Linked DNA regions of Homo sapiens: region 1 is reported to be linked to region 2. Evidence: microRNA targets listed by miRTarBase, many of them from high-throughput screens and not tested one by one. Region 2 holds a microRNA gene; the other region holds the end of a gene's coding sequence.

Evidence for each region. Region 2 holds the annotated microRNA hsa-miR-339-3p (UGAGCGCCUCGACGACAGAGCCG, at 3,043-3,065, opposite strand). A microRNA usually pairs through its seed, bases 2 to 8, with sites in the 3' UTR of a target mRNA and lowers its output. Matches are read on the target gene's strand: a 7mer-m8 pairs with bases 2 to 8, a 7mer-A1 pairs with bases 2 to 7 and ends in A, and an 8mer does both.
Region 1: miRTarBase lists AKIRIN1 as a target of hsa-miR-339-3p. Seed matches in the 3' UTR shown: 7mer-A1 at 3,112-3,118.

The regions. Positions count from the first base shown.
Region 1 is chr1:39,003,551-39,007,933 of GRCh38, reverse strand. It overlaps AKIRIN1 (akirin 1), which reads right to left. Exons shown (of 5, transcript NM_024595.3): 5 at 1,875-3,889. The coding sequence ends at 3,879. Among named protein-coding and RNA genes, the nearest start is that of AKIRIN1, 14 kb to the right of the region's middle.
Region 2 is chr7:1,019,913-1,024,295 of GRCh38, forward strand. MIR339 (microRNA 339) reads right to left here and starts at 3,114; the gene lies at 3,021-3,114. The region is part of intron 2 of CHLSN (cholesin); the gene reads right to left. RefSeq lists an enhancer at 3,225-3,782.

The DNA.
Region 1 (4,383 bases), not on the chromosome of region 2:
ACACTTTTCTGTAAAAGGACACAGAGTAAGTATTTTCAGCTCTGTGGCCCATGCTTTGGTCTTTGTAGCACCTACTCTACTCAAGTCTGGAGTTAGTGTGAAAACTGCCACAGACAAATGAATAGGTGTAGCAGTGTTTCTACAAAACTTTACAAAAATAGGCCAGTTTTTGTATGACCCTGCTATATTAACATACAAAACATACTGAATACAGATTCACAGAAAGGCATTACCAAATTCATTTGTCATTCATCTTTTATTTCCTTAATCAAACAAAGGTACAAATTCTAATAAGAAAAAGTGAGATCTTTATGTTAACAAGGGGCTATTCATATTGGAAAGCTGAGAATCACTACTTGGGACACAAAAGTTTGGGTCTCCAGGTCTGACGAAGACTACTATAAAGAAACCTGCTCTAACATTGTAAAGTGCATAGTCTATGCCCTAAGCTGTGCTAAATACTTTCTTTACATGGATGATTTCTTGCATTTGAAAACAAAACCCAATATGAACCTACTATTAACCTCGATTTTACAGGTAAGCAAGCCATGTTTCAGCAAGTTTAGTAATCTGGCAAGGCTGACATAACCAAATTAGTGGCAGAGAAGAAACCAAACTACAGAGCTACAACCACGCAGTCAGTCCTTTACTATGCTAGCCAACCAATCCTCCATGGTAAGAAGATTCACCAGGTTTGAAAGATTGGCTTAAATCCTTTTTTTTTTTTGAGACATAGTCTTAACTCTGTTGCCAGGCTGGAGTGCAATGGCACAATCTCGGCTCACTGCAACCTCCGCCTCATGGTTTCAGGTTGATTCTCCCGCCTCAGCCTTCCAAGTAGCTGAGATTACAGGCGCCCGCCACTACGCCCAGCTAATTTTTGTATTTTAGTAGAGATGGGGTTTCACCATGTTGGTCAAGCTGGTCTCAAACTCCAGACCTCGGGTGATCTGCCCCTCAGCCTTCCAAAGTGCTGGGATTACAGGCGTGCGCCACCCGCTGGCTTAAATTCTTGTACTCTCTGATGGTCTTCCCCTTTGGAAGATCTTAACAATTATCACTGCCTTAGGAGCTCTGATCTTCCTTTTAACTTCTGACCCAAGGATGGACACTTACTTTTTCCTCTTAAGCTTAAGACTTTATCAAGGATAATAACTGGAATTAAAATAGAGAAAAAAATTAGCTAGCTCACCAGATATTCTGAAAACACTGTTCCTGAGAAACCCTTATACGTTTTTATAGGTTGACGTCTTCCTTGGTCTATAATTTCCATGGGACAAAGACATTTCTCTACCTGGGAGTGCCCTTAAATTCAAGCTCTGGAAATCAAGGTCTAGGGAAAAATTCATTCACCAGTCTGAGACCTACCTTCCAGGTCCCCATTTTCTGTCCCAGTTGTCTTTTCTCTAGATTATAAACACTAAACAAACATGTGTGGTCTCTTTAGAGGGGATCCCAAAACCCAGCCCTGGTGGTTTGGTCTTACCTTGTGGCCTCAGAGGGCTACCTTATCATTATATGATAGCCTAACAACAATGTGGTATAGTGGGGCGGGTGGTGAGCAGGTGTCATTTTCCTTAGAGAAACCTACTCTACTTCCCAGCCAGGAGCCACTTAGTTGGAATGGGGACTGACACTTTATAGTTAAGTGAGCACATCACACTGATCTCTAAAACAAGACTTCAGTGGGGCAGCATTCCCCATTACCAGTCCAGCCTCCACAGCTTCTGATGGCTCCCACAGCTGCCCTTTCTTTATTTTGGTGTGACTAGCCCACTGCAGAGCCATTCCCATTACAGCCACTGCTATGTTCCTCTTTTAGGAACAAGTGACTACCCTGAAAAAAGAAGAGATGAAACAAATCACCCTTCAAATACAAAGTAAAATCATTCTTTAATTATTAAAAAAAAATCACTGTTGGGCTTTTTTTTTTAAAGGTCCATAAATTTTCAATGCAATGTTGAACTGGGGAAATGGTTATAGCAGCTCTCACATAAGTTATTTGAATTAATAAACATTATCACAGTATTAAGAAGGCAAGGTAAACAAATAGCTTAAGTATTTTATTTGTTTGCAACTAAGCTTGTTAACACTATATAATGAAAATGTACAAAGAATAATGTTGCAGTTTTTGGTTAGATTTAAGTCAAAGACATTCATTAATAAGGAATCTTCGAATGTGAATATTCCAGAAATTTCTCTAAGCCATCTGATCACAACAACTGTCTCTGAATATTACCTTACTTTGGAAGGTATTGGCATACATTTGAATTAAACTCAGAATTTTTCAAAATAAGCCCTAATTAAAAAAACTATTCTATATTCAAAGTAAAACAATATTAATAGAACTTTCCTTTCCAGAAACAATGAAGGAAACAAGGCATTTTGTAAAATGTGGTCCTGAACAAGTCACAGTAAAAAATAAATGTATACTTAACTTCCACCTCCTCAAAACAGAGGCTACTTTCTGTTCCTCAGCCTTGGAAACAAGGTGAAGAACAGCCTATATGCGACTTCGGGCAGGGGGTTGCCAAAACAAAGCTGAAGCAGTTGACCATGGACACCTCAAAAGAATTTGGGAGAACCCGACCAAAGGATCCAAATTCTATGTTTTTTTTTTTTTTTTGAGACGAAGTCTCGTTTTGTTGCCCAGGCTGGAGTGCAGTGGCATGATCTGTGCTCACTGCAACCGCCACCTCCAGGGTTCAAGTGATTCTCCTGCCTCAGCCTCCCAAGCAGCTGGGATTACAGACGCCTGCCACCACGCCCGGCTAACTTTGTTGTATTTTTAGTAGAGATGGGGTTTCACCATATTGGCCAGGGTGGTCTCGAACTCCTGACCTCAAGTGATCCGCATGCCTCGGACTCCCAAAGTGCTGGGATTACAGGCGTGAGCCACTGCGCCCAGCCCAAATTATATTTTTTAATAACTAATACAAAGGTGAAGTGGCTCCTCCCAAGTAGCAGTGCTGCCGGGGCCTGGCCCAGGCCTAGCCCTGGGCTCACCTCTCATGCTCCCAAGCCAACCCTGATGCTCCTGGCTCCAGGGTAGACCTTTTCCCTTTAGAGGTTCAGTGTCCAGGGAGCTCTATGATAATTGTGTGAATGAGGTGAGCGCTGACTCCATGTGAGTATTTTAAGGCTTGGAGTCAAAGAATTAACCTAACATGCCCAGGCAGAGTCCATGTGTCAATGGCCCGTCTCCAGTTTGTTCTAATTTCTCACCACGTGTCTGTAGATATAGGACCGCAGACCTTCGCTTTATCATCATAATCACATCTAATGTCCATCCTAACTTACGATTCATATTCTGTGCCTGGAAACAGTCCCTGTATTTAACAATACCTACACATAAAAACAATCCACTGTTACAACTTGTATGGTCACAAAACATTAATGATCTTCTTTAGACCAAGCAAATGTTTTTTTACCATAATTGTCGTGCACCAAATTCACAGCCAGAATCCCCAAGATCAAAAAAAAATTTTTGCACAATACAAATAATAACTTAAAATACACATACACACATATACACACACTCTCACACGCACTTCTTACAGAACTGTGCTTGGGGAAACTCCATTTGTTGAATGCCACTGAAGGCATATTTTGCTAAACTGCTGCTCCAGGTATTTTTGTTTGGAAAATCTATCACAGTAGGGCACAGCTGTTTATTGGATGAGCAGAAAAGAAAGATATGCTTGTGGCAACCAGAAAGTTTTACGGTCTTTCAAGTTGTATAAAATGGACCTGCAGAAACGTTTAAGTGTTCTCAGGATGCAAAGTTGGAGCTGAAATGTGACATCAAACCAGTTGCAAAAAGTGTACAGCAGCCATCTCTTGAGGTCAAACCTGGTACCCAGATATGTGACAAAGCTTCATGACACATCTGTAAATTAAGAATAAAAAACAAAAAGGGTAAGAATACTAAAAACTGTAGTGTCATGCTTTAAAAATTTTCACTAACAGTAAATGTGAGAAATAGCATGAACGATGACTCACCACTTAAAAGATACTAAAGATCAAGAATTTAAGGAACCTGACTGAAATTCAGTTAGATATACAACTGTTAATATTTTATGCTTTGAATATCTGGTAGTTGCAAATTATTTAGAATAAGAAATCCTGACCACACTTGATAAACTAACTTAAGGAATCAACTTTCATAAATTAACAACTGAAACTATCTTTCTGGAGAAAAGACAGGTAACAAATTGGTGCTCAAGTCAGACTACCTAGATTTTAATCCTAGCTGAACCACTAGCTGTATAAGCTTGGGCAAATTATTTAACCTCTTTAAATGCTATCTTTACCAGTAAAATGGAGCTAATAATAGTACTCCCTCATAGGGTCACTGTGAGGCTTATATAAGCTTTGGTGTGG
Region 2 (4,383 bases):
CGGAGGCCAAGCTACAGTGCGTTTCCCGAGGGAGGCCACGGGGCACCTGGACGAGGGCAGCTTAGGACGCTCGGCTCTCGTCTCAGGAATCCCAGGGCAGAAGTCCAGCGAGGCGGCAGGTGGCCGGCCCGTCCCCAGCCTCTCTTCCCACTGAGGAGAGATCCAAGGGCCGGCGGAGTGGTGGTGTCTGCTGCTCTGCGGGAACACGGGCACCAGGCCCAGCAGTGCATGGATGCGGCAGGCCCCGCGTGCGATGCCCTGGTCCCCACGACTGTTTCTTCCCACGCCGCGGAGTGCATTCCCTCATGCTCCCGTCCTGTGAACACGCGCTGCAGCCTCTGCCCTCCTGGGGCTCCCTGAGAGAGGGGGCACCCCTTGCTCCCATCACAGTCCTCCTGCAGCCTGGGGCCCCGCCCAGCACGCCCACCAAAGGGGAGGCCCGCTCTCCTGTCAGAGCCAGGACAGCCTCTCCAAGAACTCTTCCTGGGCCCCAGAGAGGAGCCCCCTAGGTTCGCTTCTCGCCAGCCGCTGCCCCATCTTGCGTCTCCACCCAAGGGCCCCTCGGCGCCCCCACCTGGAGCCCCCACTATCGAGATATGTCTGGCGGATACCACACACAAGGGGGCTGTAGCGGGTTGGGGAACAGGCCAACCCCTCCCAGACTGCAGGGACAGCTAGTCTCACACAGCTAAGACCAAGATGATGTAAGGAAATGAATGACAGTAAACCCAGCCCTTACCGAACCCACCTCCCGAGCAGGGAGGACCTGCAGGAAACAGAGGCTCCCATTCCTGTTCACCTCTGATCTCAGGGGCAGACACCAGCCCATCACTGCCGTCTGCTGACCACCCCTGCAGACGGCCTGGGCCTTGGATGTCCTGCTCCTCTGGGCTCCCCAGGCTGTGTGAAACGGAGGAGTGCAGGGGTCAGGACCCCTCGACTTTCTTGGGGGCAATCAGGCCGTTTGTAACGTCCTGATACAGCAGAGCTGGGGACTGGGGTTACGAAAGACACCACCAGGTGGAGCCTTCAGATGGGACCTCCCAGCAGGGCCTCCAGGCTGGGGACCTTCAGGCAGGTACCTCCAGGCTGGGGACCTTCGGGCAGGTACCTCCAGGTTGGGGACCTCCCAGCAGGGCCTCCAGGCTGGGGACCTTCAGGCAGGCACCTCCAGGCTGGGGACCTCGCAGCAGGGAACTCCAGGTTGGGAACCTCCAGGCTGGAGACATTCCAGTAGGGACCTTCTGGTTGGGGATCACCAGGTTAAGAACCTCCAGGTTGGGGACCTCCAGACTGGGGACCTCCCAGCACGGACCCCCAGGTTGGGAACCTCCAGGCTGAGGATCTCCCAGCAGGGACCTCTAGTGTGGACCTCCAGGCTGGCACCCATGGGGCAGGTTTCTTTCTTCTTCCCCAGAAGCCTTTTCATCGTGGCAGTAGGACCTGACCTTGACAGAGATGATATTGCGGATTTCAGTGACTGAACCAGAGTCGGAAGCTGAAGGGCTCTGCCCAGCCTTCCTGTCTTCATCCATTAAGTCTGATCGGCAGTGGTGGCCACCTGGGCTGCTGCTTTGACAAGATGCCAGTAGTTGGAGCTGGGACCCCAGGGAGCACTGTCCATCCACCGCACAGGAGTAGGGCTTCAGCAGCTGTCAGTCATCAATCATTTCCCCATGCTGTTGGATGGGAGAGGGACAATCTGCCAGCCCCAGTGTGACTGGCTTTGCTGCCACCGCAGTGCCCTCTGGGAACCCCGGCAGGTCGGCTGGAGGCAGGACACCACCCCCCTAACCCCTCCCTACTTGTCACCAGACAGAAACCACAGCTCACCAACAACCATACACAAACAGCGCACTAAAAGAAAGCATGCGGCAAAAATACCCGCCCAGCGAGAACTGTGCCTGGCACAGGGAAACACACTGGGATGCGCGCCCTTCCGCGGGGCGAGGCTGGGTTTTGGGGTATAAACTGAGTCCTGGGGAGCAGGAGCCTGAGGGGCACCCAGGGCAGCTCCCTCGGCCTGGGTCACAAGGTTCGATCCTCCGCGGGGGTGGCAGGAAAGCCCAAGTCCCTCGGCACACCCAGGTGACAGCGATGACGGCCCACAGGCGTGGCGCCTGGGCCACATCGGACAGGCCATGTCCTGGAGCACTCGAGGCCCCCTGGACAGGGCAACCAACCCTGAGTCCACCGGAGTCTGCTCGCAGACCACCAGGAGCCCCGCTGCACTGTTCGTGAGCCACGGTGGTGACGGCAGCTCAGGAGGGAAGGACCAGAAGCCTGGCCCCGTCCCACGAGGACAGACGCAGGCCTGCGGGGAGGCATGTCCCCACCCACGGGCGCCTCCTGGACCACGAGCTCCTCTTTCTCCTGCATCGCCTCAGACCCCACCCAGGGGTTCCAAGGTCAGGAGCCTGGTCCCACGTCCCACAGCCCTCTCATGGGGCACCCGTACGGATTCTGTTCCAATTTAAAGAAAACCTTAATCAGATTTGTCACCTCAATTATTAGAATCCCACGGCGTTAACTCACAGTAGTAAACTGCTTTTTCTGAGAAACAAGAGTTTTTTAAATTAAGCCTTTTATTTTAACGCAATCGCAGGTGACGGCCGTCGTGAGGGAACACGGGACGCCCACGTGCCCTCCACCACCTCCTCCCACGGCAACCCTCGCAGAGTAGCCAGGACCACATTCGGATCCGGACTCTGAAATGACAGTCCCACAACCAACAGCATCGATGTGGTCTTCTTAATGATCAGAAACACACAGGGGATTAATTTACTCTTATTCTGCAAAATAAACAAGCTCTCAAATTCTTTAAAGGTGAATCCCCCCCAACCGTCCTCCCTCCCCAGTTACTTCCTCCCTAGGACACCAGTGGAACATCCCATGCTCTCCCCCTTCCATGTTGATACCGAATAAAACACACTGCATCAGAAGACCCACGCATACGAGTCCAGGGGCTGCTACAAAGCGCGGCGACGTCTCCGCGGCGAGCTGGCCACTCCATGGTCCCGGCGCAGACACTGGGGCAGGCGCCGGCTCTGTCGTCGAGGCGCTCACAGGCAGGCACACGTGAGCTCCTGGAGGACAGGGAGAGCGGCCGCCCCGCCCCTGCGGAGCACAGGACGCTTCCTGCCACCCCTGCAGAGCATGGGACGCTTCCTGCCATGGTGCCGTGGCAATGGGTGGCACCTGCCTGTGGCCCCTTCTCAGAAGGACGTTTTAAACGCGTGAGGTCTGATGCACAGCCACAGGGAGACACAGACGAGCAGATGTGGGCATCCGAGTATTTACAAGGTCTGGTGGCTCCTGCAGCCGCGACACGGGCTGAGCGCAAGTGATGTGTGAGGTGTCCCCAACAGATGGCACGGGGAGCGCCCACACCCGCCACCGCGGGGTCTGCGGAAGCTCGTGTCAGCTGGAGGTTAGGGAAGACGCACAGGGGCTCATTCTCCACCCAGGTTCAAACTCCCTGAACTCACGAGACCCAGGCTGAAGACATGGACAGACTCCCAGCCCCAGCGCCCCTCTGACAGCACACCCGAGGCCTCCTGGGAACCTGGGACCCCTTGCAGGGTCCCCCGCAGGCTCCTTCCTAGGAAGGAGGTTCCTGCCCTACTCCACATTTCTCTCCATCCAACTTCCAACTCCTTCCCACTGGGCCCTGGAGAACATGACGAAGACTGTGGGGGCCTCCTCCCAGGAAACACACACACACACACACACACACACACACACACACACACACACACACACACACCAGCAACGCGCCCAGACCCCAATCCCTGGCAGCCCAACTCCTCGTTCTACAGAGAAGGGGTGAGGATCTCCAGGGGTGACTGCTCACATCTCGGCACATGTAGAAGGCAGGGCTGGAGCAGCGGCCCCTGCAGCCCAGGCCAGGGGACTGGAGGCCCTTCCACAGCAGCCCTTTCCTTTTGATACACGGTCTTGCTCTGTGGCCCAGGCTGGACTGCAGCGGCACCATCACAGTTTACTGCAGCCTCGACCTCCTGGGCTCAAGCAATCCTCCCACCTCAGCCTCCCAAGCAACCAGGACTATAGGCATGTGCCACCATGCCTGGCCAGTTTTTAAATTTTTTATAGAGATAGGACCAAGGCTGCTCTCACACTCCTGAGCTAAAGTGATCCTCCTTGCCGGCCTCCCAAAGTGCTGGGATTATAGGCATGAGTTTTCAAACTCCTGGGCCACAGCGATCCTTCCGGCCAGCCTCAAAGTGCTGGGATTATAGGTGTGAGCCCACGGTGCACAGCCCCCACTTTCTTCCTAAAAACCCTGCAGCTTGGCTGACAGTGGGACCTGCCTCCCTACTCCCGCCTGCAGGAGCTCAGAAGCCTCAGCTCAAGAGGAGCCCT